Linked DNA regions of Homo sapiens: all the other regions are linked to region 2. Evidence: fine-mapped expression QTL. A gene starts in region 2. Each other region holds a variant in brackets. All regions are shown on one strand. Distances are between the middles of the regions. Region 1 has its middle 9.6 kb from the start of LINC00656. Region 2 holds the start of THBD (thrombomodulin). Region 3 overlaps LOC101929707 (a long non-coding RNA gene).

Region 1 (2,758 bases), 73 kb after region 2:
TGACTCCTCAAGAGATAAGAGCCTTTTTCTTAACAGAAAGGCAGGAGTTTGAAGCCTTCTGTATCCTGCATCTCTGAGCTCAGGCCTCCCGAGAAGCAGGAGCCGACTTCCAGCGGAGAGCACTGCTGCTGAGACCTGCCTGGTGGTCAGCTTGGGCTGGTGAGCCAGGGCCAGGCACAGGATGGTGGGGGTGGTGGGGGCTGCAGAGGGGGAGGGTGGTAGCCTGGAGGACCTGCTGGGCTTGCAGGCCCCCACCTGTCCTGGGGAACTGAGCAGAGGTCACGACGGCAGGACAAAGCCCCTTCTGAGAGAAGGATCTGAATCCATTCCTCGCTTCCAGGTTGTTGTTATTTTTGCTGTGCTTTTGATGACACCAGCACTGCCTCTCTACGTACAGCTGATTAGCAACCCTGATGATGACATTTACGGGGTGTTCATATGTCAACTAGAGCATCTACGTGTTCCTGTGGTTTTGGAGCAAGAGTGATTTGAGTTTCAGAGATTTTTACTAATTCTTCTTCCCCTACCAGAAAAAAAGATCTTACCATTTGAGAGTGAGATGTAAACCCAGCCCTGTCTGACCTGAGTCTGTGCCCTAAGCCTATGCTAAGCCAAGCAGTGCCTGGAGCCACCACAGGTCCACACAATTCGTTAACATGATGAAGCAAGGATGGAAATTGGACAAAATAGTGTGCCTACTGAATCTAAGAATGAAAAATGATTGCACTCCTACTCTGAGTGCTTTGGAGCACTGCCCAGTTGGGCAAAGGGTCAGCGCCTGGGCAGAGGTCCCCACAACCTGGCAGGAGTGTGGTCGGCCACCCTATGGGCCTCCATCATGTGCAGTGACAGCGGGGCTGTCATGTCACCGTGTGGGAGGGCTTGCAGGTGAAGTGGTCTGGGAGGGGTCCCCCAGACAAAGCCAAGGTTCTGAGAGTTGGCCCGAACACTGCTGGATTCCACGGCGGGGGCTTGGGACAGCCGGACTCAGAGACAGTAGGAGGTGACAATGTATATACATCACAATGATCACAATATAGCCCCACACGTGCCTTCCCCACCAACAGTCAGCTTGCCATGTCCCTTCCCCGACATCCCCATCTTAGTCCCAACACAGAGGCTCCCTCTGCCCTGTGTCTGTTTAGCCAGGATGCCACGGTTCTTCCCCCTTCTCCCATGTCCTCCTCCACACACCCTTCAAGGGCAACCCCAGAGATTTCTCCTCCATGATTTCTAAAGTCAGTGGTAAATCTGTTCCTCTTTAAAATCTCATCACACTGTTCACCACTTCCCCTATAATACAGTTCCGCATGGCCACGTCATACAACCCTGTCATATTGGTGAGCAATTGCTGTGTAGCCAAAGACCCCAAAACTCAAACAGCATTTATTATTATTGCCCCCATGTCTGAGAGTCAGATGTGCATTTGCTGATCTCAGCTTGTTTGAGCTGCTGCAGGGTTGGGGCTCTGCTCCAGGCAGGCTTAGCTGTCACCACATGCACACATACATTCTGGGCCTCTGCTG[T/C]GCGCGTCACGTTCACTGAAGATCTTGGGATTGGGAGTTAGGGCGGTGGGAGGGCCCAGCAAAGTCACCTGGCGATGGCAGGGACACAGGGAGGAATGTAGAATGGGGCCGATGATGGGACCCACACGTCTGCAAAGCTGCGGTCTCCTTGAGGGGTGGAGACAGCAACAACTCACCGCACGCGGTGCTTCAGTTCACCATCTCCCTGGGACATTAGGGGTCCCCGTGTTATCTCATTTTGCTCTGGTTTGCATTAGTTTTTTATCACTTCGTAGATGAAGCCACTGACACCCAGAGAGGGAAAGTGGCCTGACCAAGGGCCACAGCAGGGGAGCGAAGGAGCCCCACAGTCCGGCAGGAACACAGCCTCTCCCTGGCTTTCAGGTTCACTGACATCTTCTCATGGCCTCTGTAACTCACCAGGCATCAGGGTGTAGTCCTTAGACCAGTGTCCCACAGCTGCCACAGAGTGGGAGCTCACCATCAGTTATAAGTCACTAGAAAGGCTTTTGGACATTATAAGCTACAATGGAAAATAAGTCATCTGTGGATTTTTGTGACAGATTCCAAAAATTTGAATATTTTGTCTACTTAGGTTTTTGGTTAATTTTATCCTCAAAACTGTTCTGCAGTGATTAAGCTGTACAAACTGCACCATGGGCGAATTGGCATATTCAGAAATGACTGATATTCTTGATTTCAGTTTTTTACTTTGTATGTAGCTCCTCAAGGAAACATCATGTAACTTGATTCCCTGGGAAGGTCCAGTGCATGGCACGCATGGGCCAGAGGCCACTCTCCTCCATCCGTAGACCACACGTGTGGACAAGCCCCCAGCATGCCTAGAGGAGCAAGGCCAGGGCTGTGCATGCTGAGGCGCCCGTGGCCAGTGTCAACAGGAAAAACTAACTCCGCCAGTTGTACACGTCAGCCAGGTGTGGGGTCATGCATTTCTCAACCCTCGGGGACTCCTCAGGATGGGATGGAAGATGTGTAGGTAGATTTTGAAGAAACTGCAGATGGTGTTTCAGAGAGACGGTAGAACCATCCATCTCCACTGTAGCCCAGGAATAAAACTGTGCAGCTTGACATCCCCTCTCCCATTCAGGAATAAAAAGGAACAAACAACTGATACACACAACATTTGAATCTCAGAATCACTATGTGGAGTGAAATAAGTCAGATACAAGAACATCTGTATGATTCCAATCACATAGAATGAAAATTAACCT
Region 2 (2,742 bases):
CTAGCCTGGGTGTTGGGGTCGCAGTCGGCTGGACAGGCAGTCTGGTTGCAAAACATCTGGCACCTGTGCGGCTCGTGGGGAATGGGCGCGAAGCCCTCGGCGCAGACGCAGAGGTAGCTAGTTTGGTTCAGGGGCTGGCACTGGTACTCGCAGTTGGCTCTGAAGCACGGGTCCACGGGCTCCACACACTCGCCGTCCACCAGGTCGTAGTTAGGGTAGCAGTGGCACTCGAAGCCACCCTGTGTGTTGACACAGCGCTGCGGACACGGACTGGGCTCCAGTATGCAGTCATCCACGTCCTCGCACCGGTGTTGGTCGGCCGCCAGCCGGTAGCCGGTCTCGCACATGCACGAGTAGGAGCCCGGCTGGTCGGGGTTGGGAACGCAGAAGTGCTCGCAGAGGTCGTTGCAGGACTGCGTCGCGGATGCGGTGCAGGAGCGCCCGTCTGCCTGCAGGGCGGCGCCGGCTGGGCACTGGCAGCGGGGAGCCCCAGGGATCGCATTGCACGCGTGCTCGCAGCCGCCGTTCTCCACGCTGCAGTCCCAAGCGCCCGGCGCCTCCCTGGCCCAGTGCCCCTGGACCGCTCCGGGCGGCGCGGTGCACATTAGCTGTAAGCCGAGGGGAGCCACCGCGGCGGAGCTGCCCACCGGCAGCGCCTGGAAGTCCGCTCCGCGGGCCGCGAACGGGGTGCCGTAGGTGATCGAGACGGCGGCAGCCGCGGCGCCGGGCTCCACAGCCAGTGGCCTGCAGGTGGCTGGGAAGTGGAACTCGCAGAGGAAGCCATCGGCCTTCACTTCGCACTGCTGCTCCTCCCAGATCGGCTCGCTGGGCACAGTGGCCTCAGCAGCGGAGACAGCGACGCACAACGGGCCGCAGAGGGGAGCCCCATTGAGGTCGAGCCGTGCCCACCTGCTATAGCTGGTGTTGTTGTCTCCCGTAACCCACTGGAAGCCGCGCAGGGGCCCGAGGCGCTTGGGGTCGCCGCAGCCGGGTGGCAGCTGCAGGCCGATCCAGAGGCGCCGGCGGCCAACGCCGCCGTCGCCGTTCAGTAGCAAGGAAATGACATCGGCAGCCACCGAGGAGCGCACTGTCATTAGGTGGCCCCGCAGTCCGTCGCAGATCTGACTGGCATTGAGGAAGGTCGCGGGGCCCGGGTAGAGCGCGAAGCAGTCGTGCTCGACGCACTGGCTGCCACCCGGCTGCGGCTCTGCGGGTGCGGGGAACCCCAGGCCGGCCAGGGCCAGCGCGCCAAGGACCAGGACCCCAAGCATGTTACCCAGGCGCGCCGCGTGCAGGCGCCGGGGAAAGCGCGGGCACTGCGACAGGGCCGTGCCGGAGCAGAGGGGCACAGGACGCCGATGGCGACAGCCTCTCCTGTCCGTCCCAGCCCAGACACTTCTTGCCGCTGCGCGCAGCCCCTGCGAGGCAGCCTCTGACATGCGGATCGGCCAGGGCTCGAGTTTATAAGTGCCCGGCCCTCCCTCCCTGGACGTTCGGGAAAAGGAAGGAAGTGCCTGGTGGGAAGGGCTGATGCCGCATACTCGGATTGCTGGGTTCTCTGGCCGCCCTTGCGCCCGCCCTCGCGCATGGGATCACCTCGCCGGGATGAGTAAACCCTGCCCTGGCGCAGGGAGGTTCTCGGGCGGGGCCGACAGGGGCAGGCGCCAGGGAAGGCCAGCACCCCTGTAACAAGACGACTGTCCCCGCCCACCACTCGGGCCCCCACGCGTGCAGCCCTCTTTCATCTCTTGGTCCTCCTTTCTTTCTTTTCATACATGTTACAGCCACTTCCAAGGAAAGCCTGGATTGCAAGAGCTCTGGGAACCGGAGACTTCAGAGAAGAGGGCTTTGAATGGGGAGTGGGGGAGGTGGTGCACAGGACCTGCAAGACGCTGGGAGGGGTGATCGGCACCAAGGGCACTTTGGGAGGACCTGCCTAGGACGTGGACTTCCCCGAAGACAGGATCGCAAGGAGAGACAGCTGGATCCTGTCCGCGGCCAAGGTGCCTGGCTCAGGAAACCAGCGGAGCGCGCTTGGCCTCACAGGACAGTGGGTGTGGCTGGGGTGACGGGGCAGGGTGGGGAAGACTGGCCTAACACCAGCGCCCTCTGCCCCATGGCTGGCCAGGGACCCGCGAGTCCCTGGACACGCACTGGCCAACGCCAGACCCCATCTCATCGGGTGGGGAAGTCGCGGGGACACTGTCAGGGCGCCGAAGTCCGGACCCGGCTCAGAGGCGGTGGCAGGTGAATTGCTGCGGCGCCGGGTAGGGGCGGGCGCGTGGGAGCGAGTCAGCCTGGCCAGTTTCGGCCCAGCTTCCGAAGGATGGTGCTTCTTGCACCCCAACAGAGTGGCTGGCAACCCCCCAGGGGAGCGCGCAGGATCCCAGCTGATCCCACCCGGGTCGGCTAAGGAGGTTTCCATTTCGTCCAGAGTCCGAATTGATACCCACGTGCATAGAAACGCCACTTGCTCGGCAAAGGGCACTGAAGAGCCACCGTCCTGTGGATGGGCAGGGTGGGGGGGGGGCTGGAGGAGGACATGGGAATCCGTCACTTTCGACCTCTTCCGGTGGTTCACTTACCGGGAATGCGGAAGAGTGGGTCTCCCCCTCGGGTCGCCCCCATAATGGTGAGAGGCAAACTGTTTAAAAACACCCTTGCCTCTCTCCTCTACTGTCCTCACAACGAGCGCCAGGGGGCGGCGCTGTCGAGCTCTAAACAAAGCCAAGGAAGTTGGAG
Region 3 (2,758 bases), 28 kb before region 2:
TGCTACTCCGTGGAATCCTAGAACCCCAGCTCTGCGAAAGGGAACGAGGCCTATGAACTACTCACAGGAGCTAATTAGACATGCAGGAATTTACTTAATTAAATAGTTACGTATTGAACAGATGGGCTGTTGTCAGAGGTATTCGAACCAGAGCGACTCCATCTTGAATAGGGGCTGGGTAAAATAAGGCTGAGACCTACTGGGCTGCATTCTCAGAAGGTTAAGGGGTCATGGGGTGAGATAGGAGGTTGACACGTGAAACAGGTCACAAAGGCTTTGCTGATAAAACAGCATGCAGTAAAGAAGCCAGCCAAATCCCACCAAAACCAAGATGGTGACGAAAATGACCTTTGATTGTCCTCACTGCTCATTACATGCTAATTATAATGCGTTGGCATGCTAAAAGACACTCCCACCAGCGCCATGAGAGTTTACAGATGCCATGCAATGTCTGAAAGTTACCCCATATGGTCTAAAAAGGGGAGGAATCCTCAGTTCTGGGATTGCCCAACCTTTTCCCAGGAAACCCATGAATAATCCACCCCTTGTTTAGCATATAATTGAGAAATAACCATAAAAACAGCCAACCAGAAGCCCTCAGGGCTGTTCTGCTTATGGAGTAGGCATTCTTTATTCCTTTACTCTCCTAATAAACTTGCTTTTACTTTACGCTATTGATTTGCCTTGAATTCTTTCTTGAGTGAGATCCAAGAACCCTCTCTTAGGATCTGGATCAGGACCTCCTTCCAGTAACACTATGGGCCAAGCAGGGTTTTAGACAGCAAGTCTGTCGTAACAAAAAGATCTCGGAAAATAGAGTGTGGTTTGTAGCTATCGTTACTGACAGTCTTCTCTTGAACACGGTCACAGAGTTCTGGAAACTTAACACAAACAGATATTTTTAAGAAACTGTGTTATTTCTAACAGTTGTGTTATTTCTAATAACTCGCAAATAAGTCATAAACATATCTCAAAAGAAAAGTATACATGGGAGAAGTCAAATGTGGACTGGGAGGGCCTCCATTGTGGCCCTTTAAAACACAGACAAGGTGTTGTAGCACAGCAGTAAGCTTTTCTGGAGGCATTTCCTTCAGGCTCACCACCCATTGTTTGGAAGGAAAAGTGAGCACATTTACCACCCCTGGCAGAGATCTAAGGTCCTGATTTCAGCCCACAGCACTTCAAGCTAATCAAGAGACTCTGGTATATTGCACTGTTTATACATCCAAAGCCACACCTGTTATAGTGAAGCCCTCTGTATTATCTTAGTAACTTGTATTTGCAGAGGAGGAAGAGCTTTAAAATAACAGCCATTATCTTGTGTATTTGGCATCTCCAAAGTATTGTCCAGATCTGCACATTGTAACAATGCTAAAATTACCAGGAAAGATAGGCATCTCCGTAATACCTCAGAGTTGCTCAGTGAGGCAGGCAAAGCAAAGAAAAGGGAAGGTAGTGCCTCCCCTAAGTCCAGGCAGCCTCACCCATGGCAGGACAGAGGAGAAGGCACC[C/A]TGCAGGACAGAAGAAAGAGTATCTTTTTGATGGTGTAAGTCTACTGGAATGCTAATTGCACATGTGGATTAGACACTATTTTTACCACCCCCCCCCAAAAAAAAAACCCAGGTTCTTTTGCTTGGCAAGTAAGAAATCAATCTCCTTGAGACTGTAGGTTTGATCAACAGGAGTTTTATTACTTGGCACAAATAAGCATGCTGTTGGGAGTACTCTCCAAAGCCATGTCTCCCTGAGGGAAAGTGACAGGAGGACTTCATGGGGAGATGGAGAGAAGAGAGGACGCGTCATGGCATGTGGAGGAGGAGCCTCAGTGGTGCAGACACAGCGAGTCATCACACCAGCACATAGGTTGCATGTTATGGTGATGAAGCTGTGGCTCATCCCAGGATGGAGACACTAGCATGGTCATGAGGAAAGTTCACTCGGGTTTGTCTATAAGCTGCTGAGGTCTACTGAGAGCTGGTTCCAAGCAATAAGACAACTGCATTCCACACAAAATGCAGGGCAGTAGGCTGTAAAACACGCTGATTGTTCAAGGCGATTACATTCCTATAATCACTCCAGACCCTCTGGAGTGGAGAATCATCTCTGTCCCATAAAAGACAAAGAACTTCACTTGAATCCTCCAAAGATGGTGACAGGTGGATGTCAAAGAAATGTAGGCATGGAGATTGTGGGGTTTGCTCTGGTACCGTTGGTGCCAGTAGGAAGGGAAAGAGGGGATGTCGAGTTTCCATCCCAGGGGGCAGCAGTGAGAGAAGGAACATGCCTGGGGGCAGTGGAGACCCTCTTCAGACAGACACCAATGGCCAACCAAAGTCAGGAGCACTGGTTCTCAAACCGAAGCACCAGCAGAAAGAGACCCTCTCTTTCTGTTCATGCTGTCAGTAGACTGAGGTCTGAAAAAAAATTAGAGCTGCCTTTGCAATGATTTCATCAACAGTTGAACAAGTTAAATGCATTGCTTTGTCCTATTCGGTTGTGTCAAAGAATTAAAAGGTAAAGATGAACCTCTAAATTTAACATTTTATTTGGGAAGAAAGAATTGCAAGACCACATATTGGGTGGTTTTCGGTGTGTCTAAAGAACAAAGAGATGGTTGGAGGTTTTATAACAAAGAGAAGTGTTATGTATTGCTCTTTGAGAAAGTTCATTGGCACTAGTACAGTTCCGGTGAGGTGGCAACTTTTGATTGGTAAGTAATGGAATGGGTATAATTGGTCTTAGAGTTGCAGCAGGTCAT

The links. PIP is the estimated chance that this variant, and not a neighbour inherited with it, causes the effect.
Region 1: its variant is fine-mapped to the expression of THBD in whole blood (INTERVAL, PIP above 0.99).
Region 3: its variant is fine-mapped to the expression of THBD in whole blood (TOPMed, PIP above 0.99).

What each region holds. Positions count from the first base shown.
Region 1 is chr20:23,121,704-23,124,461 of GRCh38, forward strand. No RefSeq gene overlaps it. Among named protein-coding and RNA genes, the nearest start is that of LINC00656, 9.6 kb to the right of the region's middle. The variant T/C (reference allele first, on the strand shown) is at 1,527.
Region 2 is chr20:23,048,234-23,050,975 of GRCh38, forward strand. THBD (thrombomodulin) reads right to left here and starts at 1,439. Exons shown (of 1, transcript NM_000361.3): 1 at 1-1,439. The coding sequence starts at 1,271.
Region 3 is chr20:23,020,298-23,023,055 of GRCh38, forward strand. The region is part of intron 1 of LOC101929707 (a long non-coding RNA gene); the gene reads right to left. Among named protein-coding and RNA genes, the nearest start is that of SSTR4, 14 kb to the right of the region's middle. The variant C/A (reference allele first, on the strand shown) is at 1,512.